2 linked regions of the Homo sapiens genome follow. The protein of the gene in region 1 purifies or fractionates together with the protein of each later gene. This does not show direct contact. Each region holds a gene or a part of one and is shown on either strand. Other genes may lie near its edges. The genes, in order: TIMP4 and COL14A1.

Region 1 (4,568 bases):
GGTATCCTTTGAAGGAAATAATGTTGACCCTGATGAAAAGTCAGACTCCTATGGGAACTAAGATTTGAACAGATACTGGGGGTATCTGGCCTGAGGATCTCAGCATTCCTGGTTGAGGCCAGCCAAGGATGGGAAGAAGAACTTCAAAGGGCTTTAGAAATCACGTAGTTCAACTCTACTTTATGAAGAAAAAACTGAGGCCCAGAGAGGCAAAAGTCACAAAGCTACAGTGACAGTCAGAATTGGAACCCAGCCTCCCACTATCCAGTCCAGCACCATGTGGAAACATCCCACAGCAATAATCCCATGGAGATTTGGGATTTGGAGGCTTGCAACACTGTGCCCAAACAGCAGACAAGGCTCTGGTCACAGTCACCCCCAAGTCCCCTGCTTCTTTGTTTTTTCTTTTACTTTTTTTTTTTTTTTTTTTTTTTTGAGACGGAGTCTCACTCTGTCGCCCAGACTGGAGTGCAGTGGCACAGTCTCAGCTCACTTCAACCTCCGCCTCCTGGGTTCAAGCCATTCTCTTGCCTCAGCCTCCTGAGTACCTGGGACTACAGGTGTAGGCCACCACGCCCGGCTAACTTTTGTATTTTTAGTAGGGACGGAGTTTCATCATGATGGCTAGGGTGATCTCGAACTCCTGACCTCAGGTGATCAACCCGCCTTGGCTTCCCAAAGTGCTGAGATTACAGGCGTGAGCCACCACGCCCAGCCTGCTTCTTTGTTTTCTAAGCTGTCCCACCTTCTAGAACATGACAGAGTCTCCAGTGAGAAGGGACATGCAATAAAAATCAATGTAGTCTAGGGCCTCGAGAGGGCTTTGAGGTCCAAGGTTTGCCCTAAGTGATGGGACACTTTGTGTTTTGTACACCAAGAGCGCTGTCTCCAGCTATCTGGAGAGTCTGAGGCTCTGGGAGTGAGAAAGGGTTTCTAAAGCACTGGCTGCTTCTTTGACATCTCTCCCCACCCCCCAGGCAACAGAGCCAAGACACACACACCCCAACTTTCTCTGTCCTGTTCTATTACTGTTTGCTGTTGCTTTGGAGCCTCATAAATAGGGCATTGAAAGCACTTCCTGCAGCTGAAAGAAGCCCTGAGTAGCTCGTCTCATTCCCAGCGTGCAGCTCAGCAAGGGGTCCGTCCTTCTCTGTCACTGTCTCTTTTGCCTGTTGTAATTCTGTCTGCCTCTCTGGGACTCTGCCTGTCTCACTCTTTCTGTCTGTGCCTCTCCTCACTCTTGTTCTTTCTGCCTGAATCACAGCCCTCAGTTTTTCTGTCCTCATGCATTTGTCTTTGTGGCTCTTTCCGTCTTTCTGCCCTTGACACCATCCCCTCTCCCAGTGCTTCCCCTCTGCTTCCAGATCGCTTCATGACTTAGGCAGGGAAACAGAGGTCAGGGCCTCCTTCCAGGCTTCCCTCTGCATCTTACTGAGTATGCAGGTCGGAAGAGCCTCGGGTCCTGCCTCCGCGGGTGGCCTAGAGCCAAAGGAAGGCGGAGCCCGTCGGGGCGGGATTGGCCCTTAGGGCCACCTCATAAAGCCTGGGGCGAGGGGCACAACGGCCTTGGGAAGGAGCCCTGCTGGGGCCGTCCAGTCCCCCAGACCTCACAGGCTCAGTCGCGGATCTGCAGTGTCATGCCTGGGAGCCCTCGGCCCGCGCCAAGCTGGGTGCTGTTGCTGCGGCTGCTGGCGTTGCTGCGGCCCCCGGGGCTGGGTGAGGCATGCAGCTGCGCCCCGGCGCACCCTCAGCAGCACATCTGCCACTCGGCACTTGGTGAGTCCGAGGTCCGCGAGGTCCACAGCAGGGGGTGGTTGTGGGGGATTAGTATCTGGCCAGCAGTACACCAGGAGTCCAGAGGAAAAGGGAGGAGCTCAAATTCTTACCGGTTGTCTCTTGCTGAGGCTGATGGGTGGAGAAGGACCAGGCGCCATAGCAACCTTGCAAGCCCAGAACCTGACTGATTCATAAGGAAATGAAGATTTCATCAGGGACTTCCATAGCGACCTCCCTCACTCCGGCCATACTGCAATTATGGAGTGTCATTACACAAGGTGTCACCGGAGCTATCTGATGATTATTCTGAACTACTAGACTGGGGACAGAAAGGGGAGGGGAGAGGGCTTGCATTGTAACTACCCGTGTCTGTCCAGGCCTATAACTGAGGTTGCCACCAAGCCCCTATGGCAACACACACGTTCTGTCCTTTCTCTTCCCTCTGCCTGGAATGCCCTCCCTCACACCCTTAAATTCCTGGCAGACTCCTACTCATCCTTCAAGGGCTAACTTAGGTCTCTCCCCTTCTCTGCAGGCTCCCGGGCTCCTTGGTGCCGCCTCAGCATCTCTAACCGTCTTAGCGCTCCTACTATGCTGTGCTGTTGTTCTTTACACGTGTGCACTCCACTAGATCAAGAGCTCGGCAGGATGGGGACCCTGTCTTAATCACATCTATGGGCCTAGTGCCTAGTGCAAGGCCAGGCACAGAGGAAGAACATCATCAACAGTTTTTGGTTATTAATGCTCAAATGGCAAGAGATGCAATACCTCAGTGCAGGGTCAGAACATTTATGAATTCAATAAACATTTACTAATATCAACTGTAGGCGGGATGAGAGGCCTTGACCACAGCAATAGATAAACTTCACACCGACTGCCCTGAAGGGGCTCCTCCTCCCTTCTCTACTCTGACTCCTACCCTGTGCCCCACTGCACAAACGGCTATGGAGAACTAGAGCTCTCCAGACTAACTGGTTCAAAAGGCAGAAACAGCTTAGCGGTTATAGGACCTAATAAGCCTGAGGGGTTTGGAACTTCCAGTGACTGCAGGGGAGGTGTTTCCAGGTCCCCCTTCTCACACATCACGTTGCTCACAACCCAGCCACACCAAAACCAAGAACTGCCCTATAGACTTCTTCATGGACCCTGGATCATCCAGACCTCAGGTGTATTGCCCCCACCAGCTGCTGAAGGTTCCCTCTTTTCTCTTCCTATGCAGTGATTCGGGCCAAAATCTCCAGTGAGAAGGTAGTTCCGGCCAGTGCAGACCCTGCTGACACTGAAAAAATGCTCCGGTATGAAATCAAACAGATAAAGGTACATGGGGGCAGGCTGGGATGTGTAGCCCCTAAGGCTGATGGAGAAAGTGGAGTCTGTGTTCTGGGAGGGCTGGTAGCTTTCAGGTGGCCTGGCTCAGTAATCCTTGGGTCTAGATACTGAAGTGGAACTGGATGAGATTTGGAGGCAGAGCCCATAGAATCCCAGGGATATTGCCAGGGAGGGCCTCAGCATCCATCTGGTCCCACAGCTGCTGGTGTATGGTGCCACTACAGGTACCTACTGGAATAAACCAAGGTTTAGGTGTTTTTTGTTGTTGTTGTTTTGTTTTAAGAGAGAAAATAACCCAGTAGGGACATCTGAGGACACAAAATCCTCAACTAGACTTTTGCTTACATTTTTAGGCTGAGAAGTGAGAGGTTTTTGTCTGTTAATATATACAGTACACTCACTGACCCAATATTGCCTTTTTTTGTAATTGCCTGTCAGATGTTCAAAGGGTTTGAGAAAGTCAAGGATGTTCAGTATATCTATACGCCTTTTGACTCTTCCCTCTGTGGTGTGAAACTAGAAGCCAACAGCCAGAAGCAGTATCTCTTGACTGGTAAGTTAAAAGACCAACAACTGGCCTTAATATAATAGATTCTGCCCTAGGGGAGGTAGTGAGAAAGGAGCCAGGGTCTTCCTTGGGCAGTAGGCTGAGCCAGGTGGCATTTTCTTGGGCATAAAACAGAGCTGTGTTAGTGACAGACAACCTCTGGGTTAGGAGGAGCCTTGTAACCTCCCTTTAAATGTAAGAGTTCTTAGTACAGTGACCCTGGCCACCGTTTCACTATTTTAAGGACAGGCTGCTCACCCAGTGTAGGGCAGCTGCTTCCGTTTTTCAAATAGTTTAAATTAGTATAAGATTTTTGGCAACTTGAGTCGAAGTCTCCTCTCTAAAACTGCTCCTTGCAGGTCAACTCTGCCTTTTGCACAGGACTTAACAGGAGCTTGAGTCTAACATAGTTCTGTCTCTGTGAACTTGGGCCCAGGCAGGATTCCTCCATACTGAATTGGCTGGGATAGAACAGTTAAAGAATCACACAAAAATATGACTCCATAAATGAATGCAACATTAAATTATTTTGGAGTTCAGAGAACGGAACTATTTGGTAGTTGTGAACTATCAGGGAAGCTTCATTGTGTAGGTGGGATCTAAACTGGCCTGAAAACATAAAACAATATTTAGAAAGAAAGCAAGGGAAAGAAAAAGCACAGCAGTGGGGGAGGGAACAGGTGAAGGGATTCCACGATCTATCCACACATTCAGCAATGAATGACCACTTAGTCACTGCCATGCCTTGGCCAGGAGAGTGGAGATTCAGTAACAAGGCACAGTCCTTAAAAGAGTTCACTGTCCAGACATGGCTCTTGATGAGTCATAGGCACTGGAGGCTACAATGATAAGGGCTTCCTAGCTCTGAGGATGTGGAATTGTACAGAACTGAGGAGCTCCTGGATGGAAGAGGCAG
Region 2 (3,817 bases), on another chromosome or scaffold:
AATAACAATTCTAACATCATATTTGGTAGCCACTATTGTTTATATATCTTACCATCTAATTGCATCTCCCTGGAGATTTTGTTCACATCATCTTGTGATCTTCCATCAGTTATAACCACGATAACCTTTGGGATGCCCCTTCTTGTACCTGACTCTGCAGTGAACAAGGTATCTCGAACATACTTAATTGCTTTTCCTGAAACAAAGAAAGGCAACAGTTTGATTTCACTCCCTCCCATTTTTGTTTTTCTGGAGAAGAAAGGGTGGGAACAAAGTTCTTAAATTAATGAAAAAAAAAATCTTTAAAAAATTACTATGCCTTAAAATAAAAGGTCATTTCAGTAGTTACAAATAATGAATTACTTTGAGCCTTAGCTGGGCTTCTTTTGGTCATACCTGTTTTTGTATTTCCTCCTTTGTATGAAATGTGTTTAATTGCATCAAGAAGAGTCTCTTTGGTTTTGTAAGCATTTAGTTTAAATTCTGTTCTGGGATCATCAGTGAACTGAACCATTGCAACCTGGAGAGAGAAGGTGTATTCATTTTCACACATATGTAGACTTCCACTGGGTCAGAGAGCAACAGCACAGTGTCACCTGTAGTTTTAATTTCTTCATTATCTCATTACAAAATCTGCTTGGATTAAAATTTCTTTCATACAAGTTACATACCAAATTTGAAGACAAATTAAATACATCTTTTCTTTTTTAAAAATTTTATTTTAGATTCAGAGGGTACATTGTGTAGGTTTGTTACATGGGTAAACGGCATGTCACTGAGAGGTGGTGTACAAATGATTCTGTCCCCCAGGTAGTGAGCATAGTTCCCAATAGGCAGTTTTTCAACCTTCAGCCTCCTTCTATTCTCCCCCTACTAGTAGCCCCTAGTGTCTATTGTTCCCGTCTTTACGTCCGTGTGTACTCGATGTTTAGCTCCCACTTCTAAGTGAGAGCATGCAGTATTTGGTTTCATGTTTCTGTGTTAATTTGCACAAGATAATGGCTTCCAGAGGCACCCGTGTTGCTGCAAAGAACATGATTTTGTTCTTTTTTATGGCTGCGTAGTATTTCTTGCTGTATGTTCACCACATTTTCTTTACGCAGTCCACCATTGATGGGCATTCCATGTTTGTTACTGTGAATAGTGCTGCAATGAACATAGGAGTGCATGTGTCTCTCAGTACTTTCAGAAAGTAGTTTTTTAAAAATCTTTCAAGCTTGTAGGATTTTTGCCACCTCATTTGACAGTTTAAAAATGGCAGCCTAAGCTTGGTAACTTGACAAATGTCCGAAAATCAGAGTTAGACTCTTTACAAAGATTTCCTTATGAAGCAAACCTATGAAGTAATTACTACTATTCTACTCACTTTACACTTGAGGAAACTGAGCTGCAAAAGACAAGTTACTTGCACATCACAAGAGTGGTCACTGGCAGAGTCAACAGTTGAAGTTAGGTCTATTCTAGGTCAAAATGTATGTTCTTAACCACTACTATACAAAGCTTTCTGGCTTCAGTTCTTACAACTGGCTTTTATTCCTGTGGAACTTTTGGATCATTTTTAATTGTTTTTTATTTGTTTTTCAGAATTATGATTTAATAAGTAAAGATAGCATCTTTCGAGAGCTTTGTTTAAATGGGCCTTAAGCTGCTGCCAGTTTATCAGTCTACTGGACATGTCACCATTTTTATAAAGTCTCCTGCAATTCAAAGGGAACTTGCTTCTTTCTGACATGCCTCAGCATGTTACCTATTCTCCTCTTTTTTAATAACCTAATTTTATTTTATTTTTTTTTATTATTATACTTTAAGTTCTAGGGTACCTGTGCACAATGTGAAGGTTTGTTACATATGTATACATGTGCCATGTTGGTGTGCTGCACCCATTAACTCGTCATTTACATTAGGTATATCTCCTAATGCTATCCCTCCCCCTTACCCCCACCATGCAGCCATAAAAAAGGATGAGTTCATGTCCTTTGAAGGGACATGGATGAAACTGGAAACCAGCATTCTGAGCAAACTATCACAAGGACAGAAAACCAGACACTGCATGTTCTCACTCATAGGTGGGAATTGAACAATGAGAACACTTGGACACAGGGTGGGGAACCTATTTTTATTTACAATACTTTTGGAGTACAAGGGTATTTGGTTACATGGTTGAATTGTATAGTGGCAAGGTTTGAGATTTTAGTGCACCCATCACCCAAGTAGTGTACATTCTATCTAGTATGTAGTTTTTTTATCCTTCATCCACCTTCCACCCTCCCCACTCTGAGTCTCCAAGTCCATTATACCACCCTGTGTTCCTTTGTGTAGCTACAGCTTAGCTCTCGCTTAAAAGTGAGAACATACGGTATTTGATTTTCCATTCCTGAATTACTTCACTTAGAATAATGGCCTCCATTCAAGCTGCTGCAAAGTACATTACTTTGTTCTTTTTTATGGCTGAGTAGTATTCCATGGTGTGTGTTTGTGTAAAATATATATATAATATATTTTTTTACATATATATATAACATTGTCTTTACTCATTGGATGACAGGCACTGAAGTTGGTTCTATATCTTTGCATTTGTGAATTGTGCTAAAATAAACATATGTTTACTGGTGTCTTTTGACATAATGACTTCTTTTCCTTTGGGTAGATAGCCAGTACTGGGATTGCTGGAACCAAAGGTAAATCTACTTTTAGTTCTTTAAGAAATCTCCACACTGTTTTCCATAGAGGTTATACTAAATTACATGCCCACCAGCAGTGTATAAATATTTCCTTTTCACCACATCCACACCGACATCTATTGTTTTTTGACTTATAATAATGGCCATTCTTACAGGGGCAAGGAGGTATCTCATTGTGGTTTTAATCTGCATTTCCATGATGATTAGTGATGTTGAGCATTTTTCCATATGTTTGTGGGCCATTTGTGTATCTTCTTTTGAGAAATGTTTATTCATGCCATTTTCCCATTTTTTGATGAGATATTTGTTTTTTTCTTGCTGATTTGTGTGTGTTTCTTGTAGATTCTGGATATTAGTTCTTTGTCAGATGCATAGTTTGCAAATATTTTCTCCCATTCTTGTGTTTTCTGTTTACTCTGATGATTAGCTGTTCAGAAGGTTTTTAGTTTAATTAGGTACCATTTATTTATTTTTGTTTTTGTTGAATTTGCTTTTGGAGTCTTAGTCATAAATTCCTTGCCAGGTCAATGTCCAGAAGAGTTTTTCGCAGGTTATCTCCTAGAATTTTTATCATTTCAGGTCTTAGATTTAAGGCTTTGATCCATCTTGAGTTGATTTTTGTATAAGGTGAGAGGTAGGGATCCAGTTTCATTCTACATGTGGCTATCCAGTTTTCCCAGTGCCATTTATTAAATAGGGTGTCATTTCCCCAATTTATGTTTTTGAATGTTTTGTCCAAGATCAGTTGGTTGTATGTATTTGACTTTATTTCTGGGTTCTCTCTTCTGTTCCATTAGTTTATGTGCTTATTTTTATATCAGTATCATGCTGTTTTAGTAACTATGGTCTTGTAGTATACTTTGAAGTCAGGTAATGTGATGCCTCCAGATTTTTTTCTTTTTGTTTAGGAGTGCTTTGGCTATTTGGGCTCTTTTTGGGTTCCATATGAATTTCAGGATTTTTTTTCTAATTCTGTGAAAAACGATGTTGATATTTGTATAGGAATTGCATTGAATCTGTAGATTGCTTTGGGAAATATGATCATTTTCATAAGAATTATTTCAATCCATGAGCATGGGATGCTTCCATTTGTTTGTGTCATCTCTGATTTCTCTTAGCAGTGTTTTGTGATTCTT

What was found.
Region 2: the proteins of TIMP4 (region 1) and COL14A1 purify together in Homo sapiens (affinity purification with mass spectrometry; one large-scale study listed by BioGRID and IntAct). This does not show direct contact.

What each region holds. Positions count from the first base shown.
Region 1 is NC_000003.12:12,155,910-12,160,477, reverse strand, and holds the start of TIMP4 (metalloproteinase inhibitor 4 precursor), read left to right. Parts: upstream 1-1,565; 5' UTR 1,566-1,637; coding exon 1,638-1,776; intron 1,777-1,886; coding exon of another isoform or gene 1,887-1,988; exon of another isoform or gene 1,989-2,586; intron 2,587-2,995; coding exon 2,996-3,093; intron 3,094-3,543; coding exon 3,544-3,658; intron 3,659-4,568. UniProt on the Homo sapiens protein: Complexes with metalloproteinases (such as collagenases) and irreversibly inactivates them by binding to their catalytic zinc cofactor. Known to act on MMP-1, MMP-2, MMP-3, MMP-7 and MMP-9.
Region 2 is NC_000008.11:120,274,814-120,278,630, reverse strand, and holds part of COL14A1 (collagen alpha-1(XIV) chain isoform 1 precursor), read right to left. Parts: intron 1,147-3,817; coding exon of another isoform or gene 1,132-1,146; exon of another isoform or gene 699-1,131; intron 521-698; coding exon 397-520; intron 197-396; coding exon 53-196; intron 1-52. UniProt on the Homo sapiens protein: Plays an adhesive role by integrating collagen bundles. It is probably associated with the surface of interstitial collagen fibrils via COL1.